Linked DNA regions of Homo sapiens: all the other regions are linked to region 3. The links come from fine-mapping of genetic effects on gene expression. A gene starts in region 3. Each other region holds a variant in brackets. All regions are shown on one strand. Distances are between the middles of the regions.

Region 1 (6,306 bases), 22 kb before region 3:
GTGGACCTAAACAAACATGTAGCAGCCGGGCGCAGTGGCTCATGCCTGTAATCTCAGCACTTTGGGAGGCTGAGGCAGGCAGATCACGAGGTCAAGAGATCGAGACCATCCTGGCCAACATGGTGAAACCCCGTCTCTATTAAAAATATAAAAATTAGCTGGGCATCATGGCAGGCGCCTGCAGTTCCACCTACTCGGGAGGCTAAGGCAGGAGAATCGCCTGAACCTGGGAGGCAGAGGTTGCAGTGAGCCGAGATCACGCCATTGAACTCCAGCCTGGGTGACATAGCGAGACACCGTCTCAAAAAAAAAAAAAAACGTGTAGCAGTGGATCAAATAACCCTAAATGTGCCAGAAATCCTCAGTCAAAAATAACAGACCATACAAAAGACAAAAGAGAAAAAATGATTAGTGTGCAGTACTACCTATCATCTAGTGTTCATATGAAAACTTGGCAATGGATGAGAATGCAGGACAAGATTCAACTGTGTATGCCCCAGTCATACACTACTAAAATATTTAAAAATCAAGGTGTAATACAACACGATATGCAAGTGTAAACAGTGCCAAATGACTTTGAATGTTGACCTTCAGATCTGTTGGACCTGCACACCAGTACTTCAGCACCAAGGAAGGAAGGCCCATGGTGTGTGACTCAAACCCAGGAAGAGTCTGGTATCTCAGGAGAGATGCAGAACAGGTGGCAGCCACAGACCTTTAAGTCTTCAATCAAAAACTGTCAACACACAAAGCCAAGGGTACACAAGATAGACTAACAGCACGCCCCCATAGCTATCATTCTGCTCATTTTTAAAAGTCAGCATTTATACAACTGTACACTCAGGAGTGCAGGAAATCTCACTGCTTTTAAAGGTAACAGCCTTTTCTAAATTCCTACTTCAACGTCATGCTAGAGACACTCAGCAACCTGTATGTTCTCAGAAACAACTAAAACCAATCTACTCTCTAATGACCTCTATCATAAAGGTATGTAATTTCCATCATTACTGAAAGCACTGTACACATATTATGCTTATCCATTGATAAGGGCTGGCTATGTCCCCACCCAAATCTCAACTTGAGTTGTAACTCCCAGAACTCCCAGGTGTTATGCGAGGGACCCAGGGGGAGGTAACTGAATCATGGGGACTAGTCTTTCCCGTGCTATTCTCCTGATAATAAGCCTCACAAGACCTGATGGGTTTATAAGGGGTTTCCGCTTTTGCTTCTTCCTCATTCTCTTGCTGTCGCCATGTAAGAAGTGTCTTTCGCCCTCCTCCATGATTGTAAGACCTCCCCAGCCATGTGGAACTGTAAGTCAAATTAAACCTCCTTTTCTTCCCAGTCTCAGGTACGTCTTTATCAGCAGCGTAAAAACAGACTAATACATCCATTAACTTATTCGAGAGGAGTAAGGTATTCCCAACTGTCTTCGTCTTATAATCTGTCAAGTATGCCTGGCTGTTAACATTACTGATAAGAATAGTGTGAGCCTCAAGTGTGCAGCACAGGCTTCCTCACAGTGTGGGAAACCTCACTCTACTAGTGACAGCATCAGGGCCTGCCTGACCTCTCCTCAGTAGACTGCTTCTACTAGGTTCCTCGGCAGAGGTTTCAAATAACCTTCAGGCAACGTCAGCCATCCTGACTTGGCTTTTTTGAGACAGGGTCTCGGCTTGGTTGCCCAAGCTGGAACACAGTGGCACGAACATAGCTCACTGCAGCCTCAACCTCCTGGGCTCAAGCAATTCTCCTGCCTCAGCCTCTGGAGCAGTTGGGACTACAGGCATGTGCCACCACACCCAACTATTTTTTTTTGGTCAAGACAGTATCTCATTTTGTTGCCCAGGCTGGTCTCAAACCCCTGGGCTCCAGTGACCCTCCCACCTAGGCCTCTCGAAGTGCTAGGATTAGAGGTGTGAGCCACTTGCCTGGCCGTAATTTAGCATTTTAAAATGAACTATCTCAGCTACACACAGTGGCTCACAAATATAACCGCAGCAATCTGGGAGGCCAAGGCAAGAGAATCGCTTGAGCCCAGGAGTTTGAGACCAGCCTGAGCAACATATTGAGACTCTGTATTTTTATTAAAATTTAAAAATTAAGCAAAATGAACTATTTGGCCCCCAAAAAAGTTAATTCTATCTTCAGACCCACTAAGTCTAGCAGTATAGACACTCCATTATTTATTAACAATTTTTTTAAGTTGGTTCCAACTATTCCAGGCTAACTGCTCTCTAGCTATGTTAAAATCTAACAATCTGTTTCATGACGTCTTTGCTGTATACTCTACATTCACAGTTAACACCTCATTAATTAAACAGACTAAGGTTACCGTGAGAGCCTTCTGTGGCTGAACTGCCCTCCTCACAATGGCCAGGCCCTGGTCACACAGATGCAGGTACCACAGGCAGCGCTGCAGTTCTCGAACTTTCATATGAATCAGAAGGGACTCCAGTGGCATAGGCCGGAGCCCAACAATCACAACAAGAAAATTTGAGTGCTATGTACTCTGGGCCCCTGCCTTCCAAAGGGGCACTCAAGAATGCCAAGTCAGCTCCATTTTCAAAGTCCAATGTAAAAGATGTTTGGGATTATCTCACATCCTCAGTGAAACAATCATCAACTTCAGATATAAACCAAGTGACTGACTAATGAAGAGCAAAGCCCAGGCCTAGACTGCAAATGCTCGTTAACTGCTCTGTCAAATTAAACTATGTGGCATTCAAAGACTGGTATACTACATTAAAAGCCATTTTCATAGGCAATAGAAGAAGTTATACTACTCAATTACCAATGTACCACTGTGAAAATGCATTACCACAGAAATAAAACTACTTACGCCTTTTTAATATCCTCGGGTGAGGCATGTCTCTGCACGCCTAGAACTTCATAGTAATCCACCATGTTTTACGAGATTGTTGGAATGGGTCCTGCAAGTAAAAACAGGTGGTCAGTGATGAGGCTGCTGGGGATGGGCAAATCACGGTGGTGGGATGGGTCTGGAGAGGGAGGAAGGGGTGGTGTCACCTTAGCACC[T/CT]ACTGGCCTACAGAGGGAACTTCCACTAGAGCTAACCACTAGCCTGCTGGGCCAAGACCTTGTCTGGGAACTGGTTCCCAGATTCATGCCCTAAGACCCTTCTAGAGACGGGGAAAAAAGCTCTGAAATAGCCTAATAATAGCCTAAACTAAACAACAGGTGACTCTAGGCAGAGACTCCGTGCCACTTGACCACTAGCTGACAAAGTCTGTCATGTGTTCCTAGACACGGTCTGTGCTCAGGGAACGTCAGTTACCTCTTTCATTCAATGCATTCCTGTGCCAGGCATCGGGCAAGACCACGGGGCTCCAAGGACAAACACGTTGTCCCTGCCCTGAACTAACTTCACATGGGAACAATAGAAAGCCATCCTTCCACCATTCTGTCACCCACACGAGGGAACAGCAAAAGCCCTCCCACACATCTCCCAAGAGAGAAAGACCTTTGACTACACAGCAGTTAGCGTTAACTTTACCCTCTGGTTCCAAGCTCCCATCCATTCCTCTACCAAAGAAATACAATATTGCCCTGTTGACCACACTAATTAGATAGTATCACTACCGAATGGAAGGTGGAAAACCAGCAGCAGAGATTCATTCTCTAAGTTCCCCTATGGATTACGTGGTTCAACCTTGTTACTTCCCCGGGCAGTAAAATGTACAATGAAACCCATTCTGCTTCTGCCAGCTCTAATGGAGGATGTAGCCTCTGGTCCCACAAGGAGGAACTACGCACACTGCTGCTTTAAGATGTGACGTTTCCTAACCAATTTACTTCTTTCAATTTGACTGGCTAACCTACTCTTTTAAAACAACAATCAAGAATCTGCACAGCCGGGCGCGTGGCTCACACCTGTAATCCCAGCGCTTTAGGAGGCCGAGGGAGGTGGATCACTTGAGGTCAGGAGTTCGAGATCAGCCTGGCCAACATGGTGAAATCCTGTCTCTACTAAAAATACAAAAATTAGCCGGCATCGTGGTGCACACCTGTAGTCCCAGCTACTCGGGAGGCTGAAGCAGAATTGCTTGAACCCAGGAGGCAGAGACTGCAGTGAGCTGACATCGTGCCACCAGACTCCAGCCCATGCCACCGGACTCCAGCCCGGGCGACGGAACGAGGAAGGAAGGAAGGAAGGAAGGAAGGAAGGAAGGACGGAAGGAAGGACGGAAGGAAGGACGGAAGGAAGGAAGGAAGGAAGGAAGGAAGGAAGGAAGGAAGGAAGGAAGGACAACAGTATCACAAAGCCACAAAGACACATCTGTGGAAACTTCAACTCTTGGTTTTTGTTTTTTGTTTTTTTTTTTAATTGAGACAGGGTCTCACTTTGTTGCTGATCTTGGTCTCAAACTCCTGGGCTCAAGGATTCTTCCCACCTCAGCCTCCCAAAGTGCTGGGACTGCAGGCATGAGCCACCAAACCTGGACCTAAAACTCTTGTTTTTATGGAAGTCCTTTCATCAAAAAAACAAAAAACTATAATGGAAATCAGGATCTATTTAGATGTATATAAACTACATTATCAATTCGACAGAATGACTAACATCAAACTTAGAAAAGAAATGTACATCTTCAAATACATGACAGCAAAGATTCTAGGTGTTAAGTTTAATATGCCAACTACAAGATACGGAATTTAGAGTATCAAAATGTTCTTTTTCTTAAGTAGATTTGTTCCCAGTATTTTTAAAATTACAACTTAGAAAAAAACTTGTTCCTATTTTCTTGTAATTATTCCAATTTAACGTTATCAGCTTTGCTGGATACATAATAAAACAAAGATAAAATATTAATTGGAGAATGTGCCTAAGGGTATACCACTGCACAGTTCTTTCCACTCCATTTGGAAATAATCAATATAAAATATTAGGGACTTCATGTAATAAGTTACAAGGTAAGGAACCCCTAGTTATGAAAGATTTCCTCCCTGGTAGTTAGAATGACATGGCAACATACAGGATTCAAGCCACACAGGTCCGACCAGTCTCTAGAGAAAAGACAGGAGTCGACTCCCGTAAGTAGGAACACCGCAATCTTCTTTCAGTAACTAAAAACCTGCCCATCAGTCACAGCACACAAGACAGAGCAGGCAACAAGCAGCAGGAAAGCCAGCGTTTCTTCACGTCTCCCTCATTCCCTTGGCTGAGTGACTACGTGAGGTTATTTTCACTCCAGCTCCAGTTTGCTGCCAACGATCTGAGGTGGCATTTTGGCAGTGATGCCAGTGGCAGTACCTAGCAGAAACAGAGGGAAGCTGCTAATCCACTCTCACTAACAGAACAAGAGCAGAAATCTCAGTACCAGTCTCCCCATGCCAGACATCTGGATCATCCCCTCTGAGCACTATATATAGCAAGAGGCCATTCAATGTGCCACACACCAAGCACACATGCCCTCGCAAGTCCAAACAGCTCATCTTCTATCTGCACTTGTGTGCCTGTGTTTGTGCATATGGTGGTGGGAATGGGAGGAAGACACCTCCCGAGGCAGTGAGCACAGAGGTGAGAACGTGGGTGTGGGTGAGGGCCGCGTGGCCAGCTGGGGAATGCTGTGATTTACTTCACCACCAAAAACACTCTCACTGAAAGCCTGCTCTGTCATGTACGTGCAGCATCCACTAACAGCACTCGGTATTCATGCAGCACTCCATCAAATGGCTAGTTTCCTTACCAAATGAAGGCTACCCTACAAGGAAAGCATAAAGGCAGTATGAGAGCCACCCCCTGGAGTGGATGCCCTCACCTCTGCGCTCCTCCTGCACTGCTTACCCTTAGCCGCTCCACTTCCTTGCCTGGACTCATCCCCCAGTCCTGCTGCAGCTCCCCACTGCCTGCCACTGGAGGCTCTTATTTAAGGTCAGTAAAAAACCCACAGCACCACCCACAGACGTTTCCCAGCTCTCCTTGTCCAACTTCTCTCTCCATCTGCCTTCCACCACCAGCTTTCACCCCTCCACTGGCCCGCTGAAGAAACCACGGGAATGCTGGCCGGGTGCGGTGGCTCACGCCTGTAATCCCACCACTTTGGGAGGCCGAGGCGGGCAGATCACGAGGTCAGGAGATCAAGACCATCCTGGCTAACACGGTGAAACTCCATCTCTACTAAAAATACAAAAAATTAGCCAAGAGAGGTGGCGGGTGCCTGTAGTCCCAGCTACTCGGGATGGTGAGGCAGGAGAACGGCGTGAACCCCGGGAGGCGGAGCCTGCAGTGAGCCGAGATCGCGCCCGCGCCACTGCACTCCAACCTGGACGACAGTGAGACTCCATCTC
Region 2 (6,306 bases), 31 kb after region 3:
GGGCGTGGTGGCGCATGCCTGTAATCCCAGCTACTAGGGAGGCTGAGGCAGGAGAATCGCTTGAACCCGGGAGGCAGAGGTTACAGTGAGCCAAGATCGTGCCACTACACTCCAGCCTGGGCAACAGAGCGAAACTCCATCTCAAAAAAAAAAAAAAAAAAAAAAGCCATCTAAAACCCACAAATACCGAGATGAAAGTGATTTCTGGTTGTCCTCACTGCTCATTATATGCTAATTTTTTTTTTTTTTTTTTTGAGACTGTGTCTCGCTCTGTCGCCAGGCTGGAGTGCAGTGGCGCGGTCTTGACTCACTGCAACCTCCGCCTCCTAGGTTCAAGCGATTCTCCTGCCTCAGCCTCCCAAGTAGCTGGGATTACAGGCACCTGCCACCATGCCTGGCTAATTTTTGTATTTTTTTTGAGACGGAGTCTTGCTCAGTCGCCCAGGCTGGAGTGCAGTGGTGCGATCTCAGCTCACTGCAAGCTCCGCCTCCCGGGTTCATGCCATTCTCCTGCCTCAGCCTCCTGGGTAGCTGGGACTACAGACGCCCACCCACCACGCCCGGCTAATTTTTTGTATTTTTAGTAGTGACGGGGTTTCACTGTGTTAGCCAGGATGGTCTCCATCTCCTGACCTCGTGATCCGCCCGCCTCGGTACCCCAAAGTGCTGGGATTACAAGCGCGAGCCACCGCACCCAGCCTCATTTTTGTATTTGTTTTCACCATGTTGACCAGGCTGGTCTTGAACTCCTGACCTCGTGATCCACCTGCCTCGGCCTCCCAAAGTGCTGGGATTACAGGAGTGAGCCACCTCCCCAGCCCATTATATGCTAATTATAACACATTAGCTGCTAAAAACCACTCCCGCCATTGCCTTGACAGTTTACAAATGCCATGGCAACGTCAGGAAGTTACCATATATGGTCTAGAAAGGGGAGGAACCCTCAGTTCCAGGAACTGCCCACCTCTTTTGAAGAAAACTCATGAATAATCCACCCCTTTGTTTAGCACATAATCAGTAAATAACCATAAGTATTCTTACTCAGACAGCCTAAGCTGCTGCTCTGCCTATGGAGTAGCCATTCCTTTGCTTTCCTAGTAAACTTGCTTTCACTTTACTCTATAGATTCACCTCAAATTCTTTCTTGCGTGAGATCCGGGAACCCTCTTTTGGGGTCTGGATCAGGACCCCTTCCTGGTATAGTTCCGCAGAGCTATAAGAAGCAAAGAAGGGCTGGATGACGGAGGCCTGGATGGCATTCTGAGCTACAGAAAGGAAGAGGAGTTGGGGTTTCTGGGTGTGATGGAGACAAGTTTTGGGGTGGTCCAGGAAGAATGGGTCTGGTGAACAAACGTTGCCTTGTTATGCGGAAGAAAGCCTGCAGGTGATGGGAGCAGATAATTCAGAAGCAGGGGACCGAGAAACCCAAGTCTGTCCGACGAGCAGGTGAGATGCTCACACAGCTGGTGCAGCCCTCAAAGCGCAGTCAGAGGTGTGGCCGTGAAGCGGAGTGGACAAACCAGGAGGTGGAAGCTGGTTGGAGCCTCGGGCGAGGGAGAGTTCACCTAGTTAGAGTGGCGGGGCCTCCCAAAGTGCTGGGATTACAGGCATGAGCCGCCGCGCCCGGTCAGAAAGTACATTTTTAAGAAACTCCTTGGTTGTAAAATATGACATAATTGGTCTGAGGCTACTGATGGCCAGTGTGGACCTGCACACACTCTGCTGCCTACCCTCCGGAGATGGGATGGAACAGAACCATAGTATATGTGCAGAATCGACTTTTCAAAGTTTGGGAAAATTCCGAGTTCCAAAGCACATTGGGTCCCAAGAGTTTCATGAAGGAGCTGTGGCTGCACACAGCTGGTGTCTTGTTTGGCAGATGTCGGACCTGAGGCTCTGTGTGGCCCTGGCCCAACCTCCTCTCCACGTGCATTTACTGGGATGCTGACTTAGAGAGCTGTGCTGGGTTGAGCTTTCCTAGTGGATTCAAGTCCACCAGGGCTCAGCGGGACGTCTTCAGAGACAGATGGGTTTTCTTTAACCCTATATAACGTGACTTACTTTCCAATCTGACTCTGGCATAACATTACATGACAAAGAAGAAAATCAAAATATTTTACCCCAAATCATGTTTCTTTGCCATATTTTGAAATGGCCCTGCAAAGCATCCTTTGTGGGGGAAAAATGCATCTGTAAAGAGTCTCTAGTAACATAGATCTTTTTCTTCCAGGCCCTCCCAATCCTGAAGACAGTAACTGAAAGTCTAGCACCTTTTAAAGATCTGAACAGGAAACATTTGTCATCTTTTGTCTCTAAGGGCAGCCGCGATAGATTCAAAAAAACCTTGGTCTCCACGGTCTTTGTGTGTGTGTGTGTGTGTGTGTGTGTGTGTGTGTGTGTGATGGAGTCTTGCTCTCTCGCTCAGGATGGAGTGCAGTGGCACGGTCTCGGCTCACTGCAACCTCTGCCTCCCAGGTTCAAGCAATTCTCCTGCCTCAGCCCCTCCCTAGTAGTTGGAATTACAGGTGCACGCCTCCACGCCTGGCTAATTTTTGTATTTTTAGTAGAGACAGGGTTTCACCATGTTGGCCAGGCTGGTCTTGAACTCCTGACCTCAAGTGAAACTCCTGCCTCAGCTTCCTAAAGTGCTGGGATTACCGGTGTGAGCCACTGCACCCACCCAACAATCTTTTATCTTTTTTTTTTTTTTTTTTT[TG/G]AGACAGAGTTTTGCTCTTGTTGCCCAGACTGGAGTACAGTGGCACGATCTTGGCTCACTGCAACCTTCCACCTCTGAGTTCAAGCGATTCTCCTGCCTCAGCCTCCTGAGTAGATAGGATTACGGGCATGTGCCACCACATCCGGCTGATTTTATTTATTTTTATTTATTTATTTTTTGAGACAGAGTCTCACTCTGTGGCCCAGTCTGGAGTGCAGTGGCATGATCTCAGCTCACTACAACCTCCATCTCCTGGGTTCAGGTGATTCTCCTGCCTCAGCCTCTCTAGTAGCTGGGATTACAGGAATGCACCACCACGCCCGGCTAATTTTATATTTTTAGTAGAGACGGGGTTTCACCATGTTGGTCAGGCTGGTCTCGAACTCCTGGCCTCAGGTGATCCACCTGCCTCAGCCTCCCAAAGTGCTGGGATTACAGGCGTGAGCCACTGCGCCCGGCCTACAATCTTTTATGTTAACCTGAACATTTCCTTTCTGTCGATCCCAGGTCTTTAGATAAACTCAACCAATTGTCAACCAGAAAATGTTTAAACTTACCTATAGCCTGGAAGCCCCCGCTTTGAGTCGTCCCTCCTTTCTGGACCAAACCCAAGTCTCTCTCTCTCTCTCTCTCTTTCTCTCTCTCTCTTTCTTTTTTTTTAGACGGAGTTTCGCTCTTGTCACCCAGGCTGGAGTGCAGTGGCACAATCTCGGCTTGCTGCAACCTCTGCCTCTCGGGTTCAAGCGATTCTCCGGCCTTAGTCTCCTGAGTAGCTGGGATTACAGGCGCCTGCCACCACGCCCAGCTAATTTGTTTGTATTTTTAGTAGAGACGAGGGTTTCACCATGTTGGCCAGGCTGGTCTCGAACTCCTAACCTCAGGTGATCCACCCGCCTCGGCCTCCCACAGTGCTGGGATTACAGGCGTGAGCCACTGCACGCGGCCAAAGTATTTCTTAAATGCATTTGATTGATGTCTCATGCCTCTCTAAAATGTATAAAGCTGCGCCCCAACCACCTTGGTTCCATGTTCTCAGGACCTCCTGAGGGCTGTGTCATGGGCCATGGTCACTCGTATTTGGCTCAGAATAAATTTCTTCAAATATTTTACAGTTTGACTCTTTCTTTGACATTTCCTATATGTGTGTGGTTCTTGGAATTATTTTTAAACCAGTTGTAACATCTGAACGAGTTACATGAAATCTTTTAACACATGCTCATTTTATATCTGTATGAATCACGACTATATTCTTTTTAAAAGTTATCTTTTGCTGGGGTCGAGGGTGGTGGCTCCTGCCTGTAATCCCAGCACTTTTGGAGGCTGAGGCAGGAGGATTACTTGCTGCCAGGATTTCCAGACCAGCCTGGGCAATATAACGAGACCCCATCTCTACAAAAAAAATTTAAAAATTAGCTGAGTATGGTGACGCGTGCCTGTAGTCCCAGCTACTCAGGAGGCTGAGGTGGGAGAATCTCCTGAGCCCAGGAGGCTGAGGTTGTAGTGGGCCGTGAGTGCACTACTGCACTCCAGCCTGGAGACAAGGCGAGACCCTGTCTCAACTTAAAAAAAAAAAAAAGAAGTTATCTTTTACTATCTCCTAAAGTTAAATTCCTAAAACAGAATTGCCAGGAGTGTAGGATGACTGTGTGAGCCCGGGAGCTTGAGGCTGCAGTGTGTTAAATTGATTAGGTGTCCATGCTAAATTCAGCATCAATATGGTGACCTCTGGAAGCTGGGGGCCACCAGGTTGCCCAAGGTGGGGTGAACGAGCCCATGTCAGCGGGGAACAGGAGCAGGTTAAGAGCTTCTGTGCTGACCATGGCCAGTGCCCTCCAGCCTGGGCAACATCACCAGACCCATCTCTAAAATATGAAAAGCAGGCCGGGCGCAGTGACTCATGCCTGTAATCCCAGCACTTTGGGAGGCCAAGGTGGGCGGATTACAAGGTCAGGAGTTCAAGACCAGCCTGGCCAATATGGTGAAACACCGTCTCTACCAAAAATGCAAAAATGAGCCAGGTACGGTGGCACATGCCTGTAGTCCCAGCTACTCAGGAGGCTGAGGCAGAAGAATCGCTTGAACCCGGGAGGCGGAGGTTGCAGTGAACCGAGATCCCACCACTACACTCCAGCCTGGGCGACAGAGTGAGACTCTGTCTCAAAAAGAAAAAAAAAAAAGAAAGAAAGAAACCTTGGGCTATGCTGGGCACACTGTCTACGAGGAGGACCTACCCCACAAGGAGCAGTAAAACAAAACAAAAACAACAACCACCTCAGATCCATCACAGGCTCTCCCCTTCTTCCACTTTGTCCCCGTGCACCTGCCTATGTTGGACAATTCATATGAAAGGAATCCATCTCTCTTTTCCTTTGCGACTAATTTGAATGTTATTTGATACAGCAGCATCCACATAGATTTGCAATCAGTAGCATATGTCAGTGTGAGAGACGTGACAATCAATACTCAGAGGAAGACATGCATCGTCTTTGACCTAACAATTCCACTGACAGGAACGTCTGCAGATCCATTTGCAGGAGTAGACAAAGTGAAACACATTAAATATATGCCGGGACACGCTCTGCAGCCATGGTGAGAGTGGCAGAGACTGCAGCTACCCTAAGCACTAATTCCTAAGGAACTGATGAGATGGACACAGTAGGACCATGCAATGGAGACTATGCAGCAACTGAAAAGAAGGGCAGAGGCCGGGCGCGGTGGCTCATGCCTGTAATCCCAGCACTTTGGGAAGCTGAGGCGGGCGGATCACGAGGTCAGGAGATCGAGACCATCCTGGCTAACACGGTGAAACCCCGTCTCTACTAAAAATACGAAAAAATTAGCTGGGCGTGGTGGCAGGTGCCTGTAGTCCCAGCTACTCGGGAGGCTGAGGCAGGAGAATGGCCTGAATCCAGGAGGCGGAGCTTGCAGTGAGCTGAGATTGCGCCACTGCACTCCAGCCTGGGAGACAGAGGGAGACTCCGTCTCAAAACAAACAAACAAACAAACAAACAAAAAAAGAAGGGCAGATCGGCCGGGCGCAGCGGCTCGTGCCTATAATCCCAGCATTTAGGGAGACCAAGGCAGGTGGATTGCCTGAGCTCAAGATCAGCCTGGGCGACATGAGAAAAACCCATCTCTACTAAATAAAAAATAAAAAATAAAAAATACAGGGCCGGGCGTGGTGGCTCATGCCTGTAATCCCAGCACTTTGGGAGGCCGAGGCAGGCAGATCATGAGGTCAAGAGATCGAGACCATCCTGACCAACATAGTGAAACTCCACCTCTGCTAAAAATACAAAAATTAGTTGGGCATGGTGGCTCGTGCCTGTAGTCCCAGCTACTTGAGAGGCTGAGACAGGAGAATCACTTGAACCCAGAAGGCAGAGGTTACAGCGAGCCGAGATCACACCACGACACTCCAGCCTGGACGACAGAGCGACATTCAGTCTCAAAAGAAGAAGAAGAAGAAGAAGAAGATAGAGGGAGTGGCTGGGTCAGGGTTGACATGGCCTCCTCCGAGGAAGACATACTGAATGTTCCCACCAGGAGGGAGTTGGGCTCAGAAAGACAGTCGAGCCCTGGGGCTGTGC
Region 3 (6,306 bases):
AGGCTGAGGCAGGAGAATCGCTTGAACCTGGGAGGCGAAGTTGCAGTGAGCCAAGATGGTGCCATTATACTCCAGCAGGGGCAAGAGCTAAACTCCATCTCACACACACACACACACACACACACACACACACACACACACACACAAAAGGCCGGGCGCGGTGGCTCATGCCTGTAATCCCAGCACTTTGGGAGGCCGAGGAGGCGGATCACGAGGTCAGGAGATCAAGACCATCCTGGCTAACACGGTGAAACCCCGTCTCTACTAAAAAAATACAAAAAAATTAGCCGGCTGTGGTGGCGGAAGCTTGAAGTCCCAGCTACTCGGGAGGCTGAGGCAGGAGAATGGTGTGACCCCGGGAGGTGGAGCTTGCAGTGAGCCGAGATCGCGCCACCGCATTAATTACGGCCTGGGCGACAGAGCAAGACTCCGTCTCAAAAAAAAAAAAAAAAAAAAAAAAAAAAAAGGTGCAAACAGACCATTCCACCCCCACCTCAGACCTGGATTTAGGTTATCTAGGTTGAAGACTGATGAGGGTGACGGGTACCACTGTCCAAAACAGAGTTAATAGAAGGGAATTACGGGCTTGCTTAAAAATGAAAGCTAATGTACGCCACTCAGTAACAGGTATCACACTGTAATACCATATGCATATTTTAGTCTTCACAACATTCAACACTCCCCACCTAGTGTTCCGGAAAAACTGTCCTACAGCCAGAATTACTTCCCAAACCTAACACTTTCATATCCAGAAGAAAATAAATTTTAAAACACTGTTTTGAAGAGAGTGCTGAACTCATCTCAAATTCTTTAAGAGCTCTGCCCTCTGGAATTCCCAACTTTCTCACCTTCCACAGCACAGATGAAGCCTGGACACTTTCCAAAAGCTTCCCAACCCCTTTGTTCTCCCACTTCCTGTCAAATCTCCACATCTACCAACTTAAGGCAACTTACTTCCCAAATTTCACAGCCTGCGTAATCCACAAAAACCCGCAGCTCGCTGAAGCGTGCATAAAAACTATTCATCCCTTTATCACGGAAGGCAGAAAGAAATGTGAAAGCACAAACTCCAAGGGAGCTTAAGGCCCTCAGGAGTGGAAACAAGTCTGGAGTCGGCGAGGCGCGGTGGCTCGCGCCTCTAATCCCAACACTTTGGGAGGCCGAGGCAGGCGATCACTTTAGGTCATAAGTTCGAGACCAGCCTGACCAACACGGTGAAACCCCCGTCTCTACTAAAAATACAAAAATTAGTCGGACATGGTGGCGAGCACCCGTAACCCCAGCTACTCAGGAGGCTGAGGCAGGAGACTCGCTTGAACCTGGGAGCTGGAAGTTGCAGTGAGTGGAGATCGCGCCACTGCACTCTGGCCTGGGCAACAGAACAGACTCCGTCTCAGGAAAAAAAAAAAAAGGAAGTCTGGAGTAAACCCAGAGAGAACGCGGGACGGGTGGACTGGCGGAGGAGTAAGGCGGCTGCATATAATTCCTTTCAGAAATCATGAATCGTTCTGATACGCAACACTATTTGGAAAAGTGCGGTTAAACACGAAGCAGCAGCAATCAAGCTTTAATGGTTAACGTCTGTTTCCTTTCTTCGGTCTTCACTCTAACTTTTCTACTAAATCAATAATTTGGCTTAAATTGTAGCGACAAATCCTTACTAAAATTCGCAACTCAATAAAAACGTTGAAAACTACAAAGAGCGCCGCTCAGCCTACTCTTCCCAAACAGGCTGAAGCCTCCGAGCTCGCAGGCGGCACCCCTTCGGTGGTGGCACGATCGTTCTACTTGCGCTGTTTCCTGCCCCGTTTACGTGAGAAGTTAGCACAGAAGTTTACGTCTGACTAGCAAACCCATCCTTTAAAAAATTCGCTAGTGCCAAAACCTTTCTCGAGCCAATATATGATTTGCAGTTTACACTGCGTGTGTCACTGACCTTCCTTAGGTAAGAGTTAATGTAAACTTCTTATATAAACTTCAGTTGCATCAACTACGGTGCAGATTCTTTAACGCAAAGCAAAGCAGACAAACATTCTGAGTGAGAAAGGCAGCCTGCTCTTCCACAAACTTCTGAACAATCCGTCCGGAGTTCTAGAAACAGGGCTTTGCGGTCCCCCACCTGCTTCTTCTCCCTCCGAACTTGGCGGCACGGCTGCGGCATTCCTGCTCCGCAAGCCACTCCCGTTTCTGGTTTCAGACGCGAGTGCGGGAGCCTTAGAAAAAGAAGGCGCTCCACGCCTCCCACGCTGCCGGCCCCGCCGAGCCCCAGCCGAGCCCCAGCCGGCCGCTCCCAGGCCGGGCCCCACCCCCAACCGCCGCCGCGGAGGCTGGGCCGCGTTCCGGCAAGGACGCCGGGCGGGGAGGACGCGGCCGGGCGGCCCCAGACCCCAGCCCCGGCCCCGGCCCCAGACCTGACCCAGAGGACCCCGCCCACCCTTCGCCCCGCAACCCCGGCCACGGCCCCCGCCCCGTCCAGTCCTTTCCCCGGCCGGCGACCCCGGTCACCCCCCGCGCTGTTGCCAGGCGCCGGGTGAGGTCCGCCGTCTGCCGGGCGCGCGCGGGGCCCTAGGCGACCTCCCCCGACCCTCGGAACAGACCCTCACCGAGGACAGAAGCGGCCGGTGGCGGGACGCAGGGGAGGCAGGGTGACGGCCCGAATCTCCTCACAGCTCCAGGACTGCTGCGCTGGTGGTGGCGGCGGCTCCTCGCGCTTTCCTTTCTCTCCTTTCTCCAACAACAAACAGGAAATGCGTCACGCGGCGGCGGCACGGCGGCGTCAACTTCCGCCCGACCCTGACGCCGCGCATGCGCAGTTTCCACTGCCCATACCGCGGGCCCAACCTCGGGGGCGCCCGCCCCACCTTCGCGAAGGTTCTCGGCTCTTCCGCCGCCCCGAAGAGCCCAGGAGACTGGGGGCGAGGGGGCGGGGAAGCCCAGGGCGAGGGGGCGGAGCTCGGGGCCGGGTCTACGGTACCGGGGAGCCCAGACGCGCGGAAGGCACAGAGAAGGCCGAGAAGATTCCAAATGGCACTTATTGTTGGGCCAGAAGGAGCCCATTCTGGAAACCGCGAAGTCGTCGCGCCCTTCATCTTCCTCTTGACCGGCGGCCCCCGGAGCGCGTCTGCCGCCTCTCGCTCCGCGGTCCTGCGGTGGAGCTGGGTGGCATCTCCGCACAGCGGGACGAAAGCTGGGGCGCGGGCGCGGGCGCGGGCGGAGAAGTCCCCGAAGGAGAAGAAGAACAAACCAAGCGGCGGCCAGCGAAGGCGGGCGAAGGCGCCGGCCCCCGCTTGTCAATTTAGGGAAGCCCGGATACCCTAAGTTCCCCGGCGAACGGGAGCGCGTGGAGACTTCGCCAGGGAATAGTGACTGAAGGAAACGGAAGCAAACTGTGGCAGAAAATACAGATGAAGCTTTTTAGGTTAAATCGTGGCAGTAGTTTTTCTGAAAACGCGGCGCATTTTGATAGCTGGACTTTAGGTCATCCCCAGGCTTCCTAGCCTTTCCCGCGTCCTCAGGGGTTCTGGTTCTAACCCTGGAGACCAACACCACATGCGTGTAGATGGTGACCAGCAGGAGCAGGGAGTCTCAGACCCAGTGCAGTCAGACAGGCTCCCATTCCCAGTAGCGAAAGGGTCCCGCAGACCCAAAGCCTAAGGAGCCAACAAGCAGTTCGTCCATGGAGCCTGGCCTGGATCTCCCACTGTCTTCCTCTCCAGCATTCAGCCAGATGTTTGCTACTGTGTTGTCTTAGTCCTGGCCCACCTTATCCTTTCCTTTAAGAAATAAAAATCTCAACTGGGTGCGGTGGCTCACGCCTGTAATCCCAACACTTTGGGAGGCCAAGGCGGGCGGATCACCTGAGGTTGGGAGTTCGAGACCAGCCTGACACATGGAGAAACCCCGTCTCTACTAAAAATGCAAAAAAAATTAGCCAGGTGTGGTGGTGCATGCCTGTAATCCCATCTACTGCAGAGGCTGAGGCAGAATAATCGCTTGAACCCAGGAGGAGGAGGTTGCAGTGAGCGGAGATCACACCATTGCACTCCAGCCTGGGCAACAAGAGCGAAACTCTGTCTCAAGAAAAAAGAAAAATCCCTTTTTGTTACACCTTTCCTGAACTTCAGATCCTGTGGCATGCTGACACTGAATTCCGGGGGCCTGCTCAGCCACCTTCTGAACTAACAACGCTTATGAATTCGTGATCGTTTAAGCCTGGGAGATATTCAAGTAAAAGGCACTTTAACACTTGAATCACTTTTGGTTTAAAATAGCTCGTTAGTAATGAAAGAGTTGGAGAAATGCCACCCTGAATTATGCCATATTAGGATACTGATTACTAACTAGTTCACTGATTACCACATTAGTATGCCCTCAAACTGAGGGCACATGGGGACCTGCCAATGCAGGGAGGGGCATTCTGTGAATCCCCCATTATTTACATAAAGACAGATCATCCCAAAGGGACTCAATTGTCTTGACCCCCTCCCTGGAAGTCTCATCCAGGGAAGAATGAGCCAGGATCACGGGAGAAGAGCTTCAAGGGACGTCAGCTGCACACCCAGACAGATTTTGCCACAGGCCACCACCTATTCTGAAGGCAAAAAATCATTTTCTCTCCCCTGAGCTGCCTGCATCTGCCTCCCCTCTCTTCTATGAAGGGGCTGTATAAGCTTCCAGATCTCACTGGATTCTGGGATGCCCTAGTACATGTTATAGATTTGTATACTTTTTCTCTTACGAATCTGTCTATTGTCAGCTTAGTTCAGAGACTCAGTTGTGAAACCTTCAGAGAGTACAGGGAAAATTTTCCGTCTACACCTGCCTCATTTTAGACAACTGGAACACTTGGTTAATGGCTGTAATTGTTATACTTCAAAATGAAATACTGCCCTTTTTTTTTTTTTTTTTTTTTTTTTTTTGAGACAGGGTCTTGCTCTGTCACCCAGGCTGGAGTGCAGTGGTTCAATCATGGCTCACTGCAGCCTTAACCTCCTGGGCTCAAGCAGTCCTCCTGCCTCAGCCTCCCAAAGTGCTGGGATTACCAGCATGAGCCGCTGTGCTGGGCTCATTTTTTGTGTTTCTTAAACTTTAATTGTATTACTGCATGTCATTTCTAGCAAATGATCAGTTAGCAAAGGAAAATCTGACTGGATTCTCTATTCTTATTTGAGACTGAGTCTCTCTGTCTGTCCTCCAGGCTGGAGTGCAGTGGCACAATCTAGGGTCACTGCAACCTCCACCTCCCAGGTTTAAGTGATTCTCTTGTCTCAGCTTCCTGAGTAGCTGGAATTACAGGCATGAGCAACCATGCATGCCTAATTTTTTGTATTTTTAGTTGAGATGCGGTTTCACAATGTTGGCCAGGCTGGTCTCAAACTCCTGACCTTAGGTGATCCACCCACCTCAGCCTCCCAAAGTGCTGGGATTACAGGCATGAGCCACCAAGCCCAGCCTCTATTCTCTTTTTTTACTGGTTATATAAATGACTGTTCAAAAGGAAGAAATAATAGTTTGTGTTAGTATGGGCATCTCATAATAAAACCTAAAATAATCTCAGCAAAGACTGGAATTTCAGATATGTGCACAGCTTGGCACTGTCACATGTAACCTATCTGCTTGCAGATTGATGGAGGTTTAGTTCCATCTCAGTGTGGACAGACAGTACTATCATGGGACATTTTACATGTCAATACGTCCCTACAGTGATTGTGAGCTCATCTTGAAATGTAAGCAGCACAGACATGAATTTTACATTGTAAGTGGTAGGCTAGCCACAAATAGCTTTTCCCCCTTCGAAAAAGAAAATATATGTGTGTGTATGTGTGTGTGTGTATATATATATACACACACACACACACATTAAAACGCGTATCAGGCTGGTCACAGTGGTGCACACCTGTAATCCCAGCACTTTGGGAAGCTGAGGCAGGAGGATTGCTTGAACCTAGGAATTCCAGACCAGCCTAGGTAACACCGCAAGACCCCATTTCTACCAAAAATAAATTATTTTTTTCTGGCACTTTGGGAGGCCGAGGCGAGAAGATTGCTTGAGCTCAAGAGTTCGACAGCAGCCTGGGCAACTTGGTGAAACCCCATCTGTACAAAATATAGCAAAATTAGCCAAGTGCGGTGGCACACACCTATAGTCCCAACCACTCAGGCGGCTGAGGTGGGAGAATCACCTCAGCCCAGGGAGGTCCAGGCTTCAGTAGAGCACCACTGTACTCCAGTCTAGGCAACACAGACCCTGTCTCAAAAATAAATACATAGAAAATTATGACCAGGCACAGTGGCTCACGCCTATAA
Region 4 (6,306 bases), 56 kb before region 3:
GTCTTCCCATCAGGGACTTCCATAAGAAGGCATACACCACCCAGATTCAACCTCCAACTGCCTCTCCTGAAGCTCATCAGAGCTGAGAAGGCCTGAGCTCAGGAGCCCAAAGCTAAGCTCCTGCATACGCAGGAAAAACAGAGAAGCTGCCCATGCAATTCTCTTTAAAAGACAGACAAAAGCAGAACTAGATATGTTAATGTTAAAAGTCAGATAACAGATGAAACGATGAATTCATGTTAGAGCTTTTCATTCAGTTGCTATTGCTTTAACTACATTAAGTGGCCAGATGTGCCCAGCACCAACCCCCCCCCAGCCCCCTCCCAAAATGCTGCCCATTAAACGTAGTGCTCTCAAGTATGCTTCCAGCCCTGGTAATACCGGATGGGGAAGACAAACAGCTAACTCTCTGCTTTCTGGGGTTTTTTGGGAGGTGGGGGGGCGCGGCGGGCACAGGGTCTTGCTCTGTTGCCCAGGCTGGAGTGCCGAGTGGTGCAATCCTGGCTCACTGCAGCCTTGACCTCCACCAGCTCAAGCAATCCTCGCACCTTAGCCTCCTGAGTAGCTGGGACTAGAGGCGTGCACCCCCAAGCCAGGCTAATATTTTCTATTCTTTGTGGAGACAGAGTCTCACCACGTTGCCCAGGCTGGGCTCAAGCAATCCACCCGCCACGCAGCTCAGCCTCCCAAAGTGCTGGAATTACAGGCGTAAGCCACCACGTCTGGCCCACTTTCTGTATGGTTCTAAGCTCCGCTGAGAGGCGGGGACAAAATCTGCTCTTGTGATGTGTTGCTTCTTCACAAGAGGGAAATCGCACCCATCCTTAACAAATGTACTCATGATGGGCAAATCCCAATAAAGTTCCTCCCAAAAAAGCTGCAGACAAGCAAATCATTAAAAATTAAATCACAATTCATCATGGAGGAAGGACAAATTGTCCATAGAGGAGGAAAAAGTGAGGCCACTTCACACAAATGTTCTAGATGGATTCATATTTTCAACTTTTTTTTTTCTGAGACAGGGTCTCACTCCATCACCAGACTGGAGTGCAGTGGTGTCATCACGACTCACTGTAGCCTCGACCTCCAGGGCTCAAGCGATCCACCCACTTAGCCACTCAAAGTGCTGGAATACAGGCGTGAGCCACCACGCCTGGACTTAAACATTTTTTAAGGTAGATACACAGGGGCAGCATTTCTTAAGCAAGATAGAAAAAAATCCAGTAGAATACAAGCTCACAGAATTGACAAGGCAACATCTGCTGTTTCTTAACCCTTCCTTCCAAAAAATAGATGTCATATGGGTTATTTTTGAATGAAAATAGAAATTTAAAAGAACGACTTAGAAGTCAACAAAAATGTTTTACAAGTCGAACTTAAAAACAATTCTTAACATTCCTATTTATGAACAAAAGTACTGCAAATAAATATTCTGCAGAAGCACAACTAACCAAAATAGGAAGAAAAACTCAGGATAATAATAAGATATGAGAAAGGTATTCTTTTGAGAGAAACTAAACCAACAGGAAAACACTTGGAAACCTTCAGACACGGACAAATGTAAAGAATGAGAAAGGCGCATGATCACAGGCCTCAGAACACCGTGGATGCTTCCAGTGAACACATAAATTAGCAAACTGATATGAAAGAAAACCCCTCAACAAACCAGCTTAGGAAATAAAGTTTTCTGAGAGGCTCTGAATGTTCCCAACACAAAACAGTAACTGTGAGGTGGCTCTGCCATTAACCCCAATCTGATCATCACCCACTGCACACATGCACCCCGATCTGATCATCACCCACTGCACACATGCACCCTACAAATACGTACAATTACTATCAATAATTTAAAAACATTTTTAATGATTAAAAAATACCAGTAACTAGGAAATGTGCACGAAACAAATGACTTCACAGGCAGCTGAACCTGGTGTTGGGGTAGGCAGGGCATGGACGGCTCCCAACTCACCCTCCTCAAGATCACAGGGCCGGGAGCTTCACCCTCTCTACAGAATCTAAAACCCAAAGTAAAATCAAGGTACAAGAGAACCCAACAGTGCCATGTAGAGGAATTTTGGGACATAAACACAGTAACTAATCTTTCTCAGAAACATAATCACACAGTAAAATACTAAAATCAGCCTGCTGGAAAACAAGACAAAAATACTTATATCAATAAGAAAAATAAGGGTAAAAATTAGAAAATTTATAGAGTTTTCCAATTGTAAAAAATATGATATTCCAATTCTTTTTTAAAATCAGAATAGGCGAGGCGCAGTGGCTCACACCTGTAATCCCAGCACTTTGGGAGGCCAAGGAGGGCGGGATAACTCGAGGTCAGGAGTTTGGGATCAGCCTGACCAAAATAGTGAAACTCCGTCTCTACTAAAAATACAAAAAAATTAGCCAGGGGTGGTGGCAGGCGCCTGTAATTCCAGCTACTCGGGAGGCTGAGGCAGGAGAATCGCTTGAACCCAGGAGGCAGGGGTTGCAGTCAGCCGTGATCACACCACTGCACTCCATCCAGCCTGGGCGACACAGCAAGACACTGCCTCAAAAAAATAAATATAATAAAATCAGAATACCAAGACTAAAGTGATGAGATAAAAAGCAATGTAAGGCGTACCGACTTCCTGGTTTTCCATAAGTTAGAACAGAAAACACACACAGACGGCATTCCCAGCTTCATGTAGTGATACAATGAGGAAATGTGCACACCTACATATTAAGACAGCACTTTACAGCTGTCCGTAAAACAGGATGTTAAAAAAATTAGTCTGCCACATGGCTCTCGGGTGTCAAAGGCTCTCCCAAATCTACATGGGGTGTTCCTCGC[A/G]CTGACTGCACCTTTCATTTGAAAGCACGACGAAGACTGGCCTAGAAACGAGCTGGAAAGGAGCTGCGCTTCCGGATGCACACACTGCCATCCATACAGGGTGCAAGAAACCAGACAGGACGAGAGTCCGGCAGAAACGCGGGCAAGAAATCTGGGACAAAGCTGGCTGTTTCCCACACAACAACCTTTCCAAATAAATAAAAGTAAACACACACAGGATTACAAAATAAAAATATGGGGCAGCTCTGTAACAGGCACACGCACGCACACACACATCTGTGTAAATAATTAAGACTACCACACAGTAAGTCACGTGAACAAAAGAAAAACCAAAAAAAAAAAAAAAACCCACTTTCAACACAGCAGGCTAAAGACTAATCAACTAGCATGTAAAGGGCTCCTATAAAATCAAGAGAGTAAGTCCACAGAAAAAGAGGCACACGCAGGTGACACAAGATGCTTGCCCTGGATAGCCAAGACGCAAATTTTAGAAACTGTTGACAGACAGTACTAGCAAGCGTGAGGACACAGACCCCAATCCGTTGTTGATAGGAGAAGACTCCTTCTAAGAAATCATTTATGACTATCCTTTTTTTTTTTTTTTTTTGAGACAGGGTCTCCTTGTTGCCCAGGTTGGAGTGCAGTGGCTCGATCACGGCTCACTGCAGCCTCATATCCCTGACTCAAGTGATCCTTCCACCTCAGCCTCCTGAGTATCTGGGACTACAAGCGCACGCCACCAAGCCCAGCTAATTTTCATATTTTTTGTAGAGACGTGGTTTGACCATGTTGCCCAGGCTGGTCTTGAACTCCTGGGCTCAAAGCAATCAACCCACCTCAGCCTCCCAGAGCACTGGGATTACAGGCATGAGCCACTGCGCCTGGTAACTTACCGATTTTCAATGCACACGTTTCTCAAGCCAATTACTCAACTTCTAGGTACCTAATTTAACCAACTGCTCCTGCAAGTACATAAGACTCTACACAAATACCTTAAATATTATGTGGAAAAGGACATCAATATTTTGCCAGGATCCACGGAAGACTTGGGCTGAGACCCAGTGGGTGCTGCCACCAGGCATCCGCCATGGATGGGGACAACTGTGCCCAGCCACTCACTAGATAGACCACTCATGCTGGGCACAGACCCCAACTGAGGGAAACTTGTCTTTCCTGCTTGGCAGGGACTGGCAGGGAAGGCTCAGCCCCCAGCAGCCACCGCAGGAGGCCGTGTCCAGTGCCAATTCATCTGTGCAGGGACCACTGACCCATGGACACGGAAAGATACGGCTGAAAAGACTCGTGGAAAACAGCACTTTCTCGTTCAAGTTCTGCAGCTGACTTTCTCAGAGGCCTGGCATTATGTAAAGCATCCCTGGAAGTTTTGGGTAAGAGGTTACTTGGCTTAGAGCTGACGAGCAGCAAAGTTCTCAATTTGGCAGAAATGTGTGTACGAAACGTGTCTCACGCAGGCTGCAAACTCCACAGTTCCCTGATGACCACACCCCGAGCTTCTGCTCCAACTGCTGTTCCTACCAGCAATGTCCTGACATCTGGTGTAAAATGCTCTGGGCTGGGAGTGGGGGCTCATGTCTGTGATCCCAGCACTCTGGGAGGCCAAAGTGAGTGATGCGCTCGAGCCCAAGAGTTCAAGACCAGCCTGGGCAACACGGCAAAACCCTGTCTCCACTAAAAATACAAAAAGTTAGCCAGGCGTTGTGTCGCACACCTGTAGTCCCAACTGCTTAGGGGCTGAGGTGGGAGGAATGCTTGAGCCCAGGAGTTGAAGGCTACAGAGAGCTGTGACTGCACCACTGTACTCCAGCCTGGGTTAGAGAGAGAGAACTGGTCCAAAAGTTAAGTAAAATATAAAATAATATAAAGGAATGAATGAATGCATGCTCCAGGCCTCAGGAGCCACATCTCCCCCACACGCCATTATCAATTAGACCCTGTCCTTGGGCAAAGCACTTTTTGCCAACTCAGGGCAGCTGTGGGAAGGCAGAGGAAAAGGTCACCTCTCAGAGCTCGCAGCACAGCGCTGACCACACGGGAAGCAAACCACATCCCCTGGGTGAGACGGGCAGGAAGGAGGCTCCACCCCACATTTCTGCAACAATGTTTCAGCAGCAATGTTTCAGCACCAAAGCCTCCTTCAGAAAACCTCCGGTCTCTATGGTTTTGCAAGTTCTGGAAGTGATTTCCCATCAGTGCCTGAATGGCAGTCAGTTCAGTAACCAGCTAGGGGGAAGAGGAAGGACCAGGCGGGGGAATGGGATGACAGCGCTGCCCTGTTTAAGAGAGAAACCAACCTAACAGGGCAGAAAAGGACGCGATGTTAACAACTGCAGTGTGGCATCAACACTACACAGACGTTTGCTAGTCAGGGCTCCCAGGAGTGGAGAATCTTTGTAAAGCCAAGACGCAGGTCCTTCGGATCCACATGGCAAGCCTCCAACAGCAGGCTGGGCCGCAGGTCGCACAGCAGGAGGGGTGTGGGGAGTAAGCCTCTGCTCTACACTCCAGGCAGCTGTGGTCCAGGGCATCTCTGAATCAAGGGCTGTGGGACAGCAACCACCATCTGGGTTTCCGCAGCCAGCACTCACGGGATGCTTCCAGGGCACACCTGCCAGGACACAGCAGCAGCCAGACAGACGAGAATTACTGCCTTCACAGGACCTGCATTCCTGTTGGGGTTGCACTCCGAGGCAGGAATCTTCTCCCAATCAGGGTACAGGGAAAAGGGCAAAGCGCAGTCAGGGGTCTGCCCTGAGTGTGCAACTTGCCCAGGCCACAAAGCTCAGAGTCGAGTCCTTAGTGAACAGTTAGGTAAGACCGACTGATACCCTGCACAAAAGGCAGCAAATACTGACCAAAGCACAGAAGCCAGGACAGGCCTTCTAACGCCCAATCATAAACTCTGCTGTCTCTGGAAATCAGTGACGTCTAGATTTCTAACACAGGAATAGCTGCTGTGACATTCCCTCTTTTCACCTTTTTAAACAGGAAGACGAAATAACGTAGCCAAATGACAGACTTCGGTCTACCCCATTTCAACCATTGGTCACACTTTAGTACCAAGGCCTACATCTAGCTCCCCCCACGTCCCTAGAACAGCTAGGAATACCATATCCAAAGGCTTTGAAATCAAGACCCCAAAGGGTAAGATCTCATGCCTTCGTTTTTAAAAATACAAACAGCAGTGGGTTATGTAATTCAGTCCCCTCCAGACCCCACGAAACCAAGTATTCAAATCAACTAAACATAATTTTGTGCTTGAAAACCTCCGAAATAACAACATCTGCCTCCATTCTGTCACTGAACATGCTAATGGCTAAATTTCAACACTGCTGCCAATCAATAACAGAGATAATATGCCAATTATTTATTACCGTTGAATCCTCTGCAAATAAAAATGTTTCTAATTCATTCTATAGTGCTTAAAACAAGATCAGTATTCCCGGAAAGAA
Region 5 (6,306 bases), 33 kb before region 3:
GCCCCGTCCTCGCTGGATATGAGCCCCAGCTCCTCGCTGAAGGGCTCGCCCAGGCCCCAGTTACATCCTGTGCAGGCCTCGTCCTCACTAGACAGTGCCAGGTCCTTGCTGGATATCAACACATCCAAGGCCTCACTGTTCTCTTCACCAGGGCTGTCCTCTGTGGCCTCCTCCACCCTGGGCAGCTCTACTAACTCCTCACTAGGCTCCAAGTCCTCACCGGCCACTTCCTCAAACCCTGGGAGAGTAAAATGACTGACTACTATCATAATTTAATCACAGGTCAGAAAGTCAGGTTACTATCCTCAATGCACTCATTTTTCCTGCAAGAAGTCTGCTTTCCTTGGTTCTACATACCACAGGACTCCTCCTCTATTGCTACAGAGCATCATTCGTACCACAGTGATGCTTTACAAAGGAAAAACTTGCTGCACTGCTAAAATAAAAGGCCTCTCTGGAAACCTTAAAGGTTCGCTTTGGTTTTCCAAGAATATAAATAAAATGTGAAGTTAAACCCACAGGCTTTTCCCAGATGTAATGCCTGCTGTGACTAATGGGATCAAAAGGCACTATTATCAGGTACCCTTTCTTTCCTATCTCAGAACATCATTTCACTGAGCAATAGGGTCCTCTAATAATAAAATAAAGAGAGCATCCTAATTCAAATAAGTCCACTGCCTATTAATATTTTCCAATTAACATTTCGACAAGAGCTCATTTGCATGTGCTCCACATTCTGGAAATTTCGACAGTCACCTAGCCTCAGCAGTTTTGATTGTACCCCTCCAATTCAGAGGCAGCATTCCTTCCAGGCTGGTGTTAGAATCCGCCTCCGCGACCTCTCCTGGGAGGGCTTCTTCTGTAAAGGACGGGTTCCACACCGCAGGCCCCAGGCCCAAGTCTCCTTGGCCACAGTGTGACAGTGAGCACTGCCTGGTGCTCAGGCACAGACCTGCATACCATGTGTCCAACATCCGGCACCCCTTCACCCTTCCCCACCTATCATGAGGGAGGTCTGAAGTACAGCAGGGGTTCTGCATTCTGATAAATGTAAAGTGCAGCTCGGAAATATCTTACAGCACATTTTAAACTACTTTTTCGTCACGTGGAAAGTACACCAGGTCTAGTAAATATGATTTGTCAACAGCGGTCCCCAACCTTTTTGCCACCAGGGACTGGTTTCATGGAAGACAATTCTTCCACACAGTGGGTGATGGGTTGGGGTAGGGGGATGGTTTCAGATACTGGATTCTGATGAGGAATGCGCAACCTAGGTCCCTCGCGTGTGCAGTTCACAATAGGGTTTGTGCCCTTATGAGACTCCAATGCTGCCACTGAGCTGATAGGAGGTGGGGCTCAGGCAGTAATGCTTGCCTGCCTGCGCGCCGCTCACCTCCTGTTCCCAACAGGCCAGTTCGTAACAGGCCACAGACCAGGGTGTTGACCCCTGAACTACATCATGAATAAGCGGAAATCCCTCTGGCTCTGCATCCACACCCATCTACATTAAACATACCGTCAGCAGGCTGCTCAGTGACTACATACATATAGCAGCCATGGAGCAGCAGCTTCCCCAGTGTGTAAATCCTGAGAGCCTGAAAATGGAAGTCATCTAGAACACCTATAAGAACGGAATGAACAAGTATCACTGCCACACTAATCATGGGAAACACAGGGTACCTGGTCTTAAAATAGGTCTGCATGTAAAATGGAGCATTTAACAGTAAAGCGCTTCAGTAAGACTAGCACCTCTCTCCTTGGACTAGGGGTAAAAACTCACTTATTCACTCACATCTAATTAGATCTCTATACCTTCTTTACAAGTAATTGCTCTATGGCTTGGTGTATCAGATTATTTTCCCCAAGGAAAACAAAAATTAGCTACAATTCAGTCACTAAGGGACCCTTCCCCTTTGAATTAAAATAATAATCATAATGTTAAGAAAGGACCTGTTTAATCATAATGTTAAGAAAGGGCCCATTTAATAATAATGTTAAGAAGGTCCTGTTTAATAATCATGTTGAGAAACGGCCTGTTTAATAATAATGTTAAGAAGGGGCCCGTTTAATAATAATGTTAAGAAGGGGCCCATTTAATAATAACGTTAATGAAAGGCCGGTTTAATAATAATGTTAAGAAAGGGCCTGTTTAATAATAATGTGAAGAAAGGGCCTCTTTAATAATAATGTTAAGAAGGGGCCTGTTTAATAATAATGTTAAGAAGGGGCCCGTTTAATAATCTTAAGAAGGGTCCCATTTAATAATAATGTTAAGAAGGGGCCTGTTTAATAATAATGTTAAGAAGGGGCCCGTTTAATAATAACGTTATGAAAGACCTGTTTAATAATAATGTTAAGAAAGGGCCTCTTTAATAATAATGTTAAGAAGGGGCCTGTTTAATAATAATGTTAAGAAAGGGCCCGTTTAATAATCTTAAGAAGGGTCCCGTTTAATAATAATGTTAAGAAGGGGCCTGTTTAATAATAATGTTGAGAAGGGGCCTGTTTAATAATAATGTGAAGAAGGGGCCCGTTTAATAATAACGTTATGAAAGGCCTGTTTAATAATGATGTTAAGAAGGGGCTCGTTTAATAATAATGTTATGAAAGGCCTGTTTAATAATAATGTTAAGAAGGGGCCTGTTTAATAATAATGTGAAGAAGGGGCCCGTTTAATAATAACGTTATGAAAGGCCTGTTTAATAATAATGTTAAGAAGGGGCCTGTTTAATAATAATGTGAAGAAAGGGCCTCTTTAATAACAATGTTAAGAAGGGGCCTATTTAATAATAATGTTGAGAAACGGCCTGTTTAATAATAATGGTAAGAAAGCCCTGTTTAATCATAATGTTAAGCAGGGCCTGTTGAAGACGCCCGGTCTCAGACATCACGAGGACAGCCCGTTTCACCTCGTGTGCCCCAGAAGAGAAGCCATGGTGTTGGAAGAGCGGGCCTTCTTCCTCGCTTGGTCACCA[T/C]GAGAATCACCGATCAGAACACAGGACTTCAACCCAAACACTGCCCTGTCCTGCAAAGCAACAAATGCAGTTTGCTGAAGGCTACAGCAAGATGCAAAGGTCATTTTTAAGACAGAGATCAATCCGTAAATTATTTTTCTTAGAGAAATATTTCTTGCCTGTGAGGGTTGATGAAGGACGGATGTAAACATGGTTCTTTCTTGAGCTCTGTTTCTGCTGATGGCAGCAGTGATTACAGCAAATGCACTTAAACGATGAGCACGCCAGTCTCCCGGTCCCCTAATCGGAAATCGCCTGCTCAGCTTCAGTTTCCCTGAAAATGCTTGAGGCCACTGACTGTCCTTCCTCCCTCAGAAAGGGGCTCTCTTCAAGCCAGCCAGCCCATAATAAGGTGTAAGAACAACCTCTTTGAATCCCCATTTGAGACACACTGAAGAACTGCACCATGCAAAAGGCCCAAGACCTACCAGATATGAGAGTGATTATGCTTCTTCGTGCCTGCGGCAGGCAGGAGCTCCACGTTTCTCCCCTGTATTATCTGTAGACACAACTACTCTTCTCTTTCCCTCCTCGAGTTGCAGGTGGTGTTCAGTTTCTTCACCCAAGCTCCAGGCAATGAAGGAGGTAAACATACAATGTGTTTCCCTTTCAATAAGTCAAAAGACAAAAACAACTACAGGAGTACATGTTTAATCCTGACCTCTCAGGTCACCCAGTGCACCACTCAGGAAGTCCCAGTGGTTGAGAAGACTCTAACAGGAGACAGCTAACAAAAGTGCCTGACCCAAACTGTGCCCAAGACATACACCAACGCCTAGGACCAGGCATCAGGACTGAGATGCCACTGATGAGAAATCCATTTTCCTACAATCAAACAGCAGCTATAACAGCACTGTCTCCCTTAACAAAACCATTCTCTCCTCAGCAAAGGCCTCCGCAGTCTTGCTCTAGAGGTGCCTTTCCGCAAACTCTCAACAACAGTCCTCACACACAATGTTTACGGATGAAAGGTCTTGCCAACAGTACTATGGTGCTTAATGATTTTACCAGGAATATGATGTGGCAAATTCACACACCAATTGGTTGTTCAATGGGAAACAACGTTTCCAAGACACTCGCACCCATGCCCTTACCACTGTCTCTTCTGAGGGCAAAAGCAAGTTAATTAAGGCCATACATAACAAAGAAAAAAATACATTAAACCCTTTATTATTTTAATTTTTCAAGCTGTAACTTAAATTTTCAAAGAGGAAGAAGAGAAAAGATTTTACAGCTACTGTGCTGTTTTATTTTTTTGAGACAGGGCCTTGCTCTGTCACCCAAGCTGGAGTGCAGTGGCCCAATCTCAACCTCCCAGGCTCAAGGAAATCCTCCCACCTCAGCCTCCCAAGTAGCTGGGACCACAGGCACACGCCACCACACTCAGCTAATTTTTAGTATTTTTTTTGTTGTTGTTGAGACAGGGTTTCACCATGTTGTTCAGGCTAGTCCAATGCTGCTTTAAACACAAAGTTTCGTGACAAAATACAATGTTAACTTTTTTTTTTTTGAGACAGGAGTTTCACTCTTGTTGCCCAGACAACAATGCAATGGCATGATCTCAGTTCACCGCAACCTCTGCCTCCCGGGTTCAAGTGATTCTCCTGCCTCAGCCTCCCAAGTAGCTGGGATTACAGGCATGCGCCACCATGCCCGGCTAATTTTGTATTTTAATAGAGACGTGGCTTCTCCATGTTGGTCAGGCTGGTCTTGAACTCCCAACCTCAGGTGATCTGCCCGCCTCAGGCTCCCAAAGTGCTGGGATTACAGGCATGAGCCACCGCGCCCAGCCTAAAATACAATGTTAATTCAACAGAAAGGCCATACTAAGTAAGCCCTCATTTGGGTCATGGACACACACCAAGTCAACCCACGTGATTAACTTACCAAAGAAGTCAAATGAAAATGGGTCCCTTCCACCAAAAAATTCCCTGAAGACATCATCTGGGTTACGGAATGTGAAGCCAAATTCAAATGGACTGTCAAAATGACTTCCACCTGCACAAATACAACACAGCTTTTAGTTTATGAATTTTGGTGCTTTGTAGGCAAAGAATTCTTTGTTGACAAAACATTATACAAATCATGAACTAATAAAAACAAAAATATTTCATAAACCTGAAGTTCTCTATAATTCAAAACATGAGCCCTGTACTGACAGAGAGTGAGTGTGCCCAGCGCTGATGGCATATGAGTGCAGCAGTGGCCCCTTCGACACTACTTTTCACCATCTCTAAATCCGTGATCGGCATATAACATGTAACATTACACACCATTTTTATGATTTGTTATGAAGGTTTATGAAGACCAAGAGTATCTGCATCCACTTCGACGACTGGCCTCCTGGAGCCACAGAAGCTGCCGCGTGGCCCCAGTGGGTTTGGAGCAATAATTTCCCAACACCCCTGGGGAGGCTGGTCACAGCCCAGTGACCGTGGGAACTTTTGGGGACAAAGTCCACGCCCTTCAAAGTCATTATTTTAGCTTTTCAGGAAAATCTGCTCTTTAAACCCTTAGGATATTTTGACATAACGTCAAGTGCTGATCTAAGGGTATATGTTCACAATATATTGCAGTATGGTTACAAATTGTTTCTATCTATAAAAAATACATCAACATATACTTCTAGTCTCGTAAAAGACTTTTAAATGCCATCAATTTCTCTGTCCTCTCCCCAATTTAGTTCGCTTTCTACGTTGCATCTCTATTTACTGATACAAAATCGACTCTGACCAAGAGACTCGTGATTTACAAACTCAACTTACTTGCCAAGACCTTTTGTCTTCAAAGAAAAAACTCACGTACTTACCTCCTCCTCCACCATTTAATCCTTCTTTGCCATATTTGTCATAGATGTCCCGTTTCTTAGCTAAAAATTGAAAGAAAAGTCGGTAAGGCCAAGTTCCTTTTAAACCCTTAATTCAATAGATAAGGTATTTCCCCAGTTGTAAATCAGTTTTCGATGTTTTACAACTGAATTTCAAGGAGTATGGCCACCTTTTCTTTAAAACAAAACAAAGCAACAGGGAAAACTTTCTGTACCTCTCTCCTGAAAAACAATTCAAAAAAAATTCAGTATGTTGAATTTTTACAAGTTATTAGAAATATTTAAGTATTTACGGCCAGGCATGGTGGCTCACACCTGTAATCCCACCACTTTGGGAGGCCAAGGTGGGCAGATCACCTGAGGTCAGGAGTTTGAGACCAGCCTGGCCAATATGGTGAAACCTCATCTCTTGTAAAAATACAATAATTAGCCAGGCGTGGTGGCAGGCACTTGTAATCCCAGCTA

Direction of the effects. Alleles are on the strand shown, and positions count from the first base shown. SD is a standard deviation of normalised expression in the study named. Not every link is listed here.
With allele C in place of T in region 5, the expression in tibial nerve of the gene that starts at base 2,744 in region 3 is higher (small effect, 0.24 SD a copy in GTEx).

The links.
Region 1: its variant is fine-mapped to the expression of DNAJB6 in whole blood (INTERVAL, PIP above 0.99).
Region 2: its variant is fine-mapped to the expression of DNAJB6 in whole blood (INTERVAL, PIP 0.98).
Region 4: its variant is fine-mapped to the expression of DNAJB6 in whole blood (INTERVAL, PIP above 0.99).
Region 5: its variant is fine-mapped to the expression of DNAJB6 in tibial nerve (GTEx, PIP above 0.99). The same link has a PIP of 0.9 or more in breast, monocytes after LPS and unexposed skin.

Annotation. Positions count from the first base shown.
Region 1 is chr7:157,355,174-157,361,479 of GRCh38, reverse strand. It overlaps DNAJB6 (DnaJ heat shock protein family (Hsp40) member B6), which reads right to left. Exons shown (of 10, transcript NM_058246.4): 2 at 2,843-2,933. The coding sequence starts at 2,907. Among named protein-coding and RNA genes, the nearest start is that of DNAJB6, 21 kb to the right of the region's middle. RefSeq lists an enhancer at 3,656-3,705. The variant T/CT (reference allele first, on the strand shown) is at 3,040.
Region 2 is chr7:157,302,662-157,308,967 of GRCh38, reverse strand. No RefSeq gene overlaps it. Among named protein-coding and RNA genes, the nearest start is that of DNAJB6, 31 kb to the left of the region's middle. RefSeq lists enhancers at 1-229, 230-771, 6,028-6,297. The variant TG/G (reference allele first, on the strand shown) is at 2,716.
Region 3 is chr7:157,333,442-157,339,747 of GRCh38, reverse strand. DNAJB6 (DnaJ heat shock protein family (Hsp40) member B6) reads right to left here and starts at 2,744. Exons shown (of 10, transcript NM_058246.4): 1 at 2,604-2,744. RefSeq lists enhancers at 1,512-1,561, 2,290-2,793, 2,794-3,296, 5,566-5,645 and silencers at 2,222-2,411, 2,472-2,681, 2,872-3,031.
Region 4 is chr7:157,389,237-157,395,542 of GRCh38, reverse strand. All of the region lies in intron 8 of DNAJB6 (DnaJ heat shock protein family (Hsp40) member B6), which reads right to left. Among named protein-coding and RNA genes, the nearest start is that of DNAJB6, 55 kb to the right of the region's middle. RefSeq lists an enhancer at 4,698-5,298. The variant A/G (reference allele first, on the strand shown) is at 2,837.
Region 5 is chr7:157,366,079-157,372,384 of GRCh38, reverse strand. DNAJB6 (DnaJ heat shock protein family (Hsp40) member B6) reads right to left here. Exons shown (of 10, transcript NM_058246.4): 4 at 5,824-5,883; 5 at 4,902-5,012. Among named protein-coding and RNA genes, the nearest start is that of DNAJB6, 32 kb to the right of the region's middle. The variant T/C (reference allele first, on the strand shown) is at 2,976.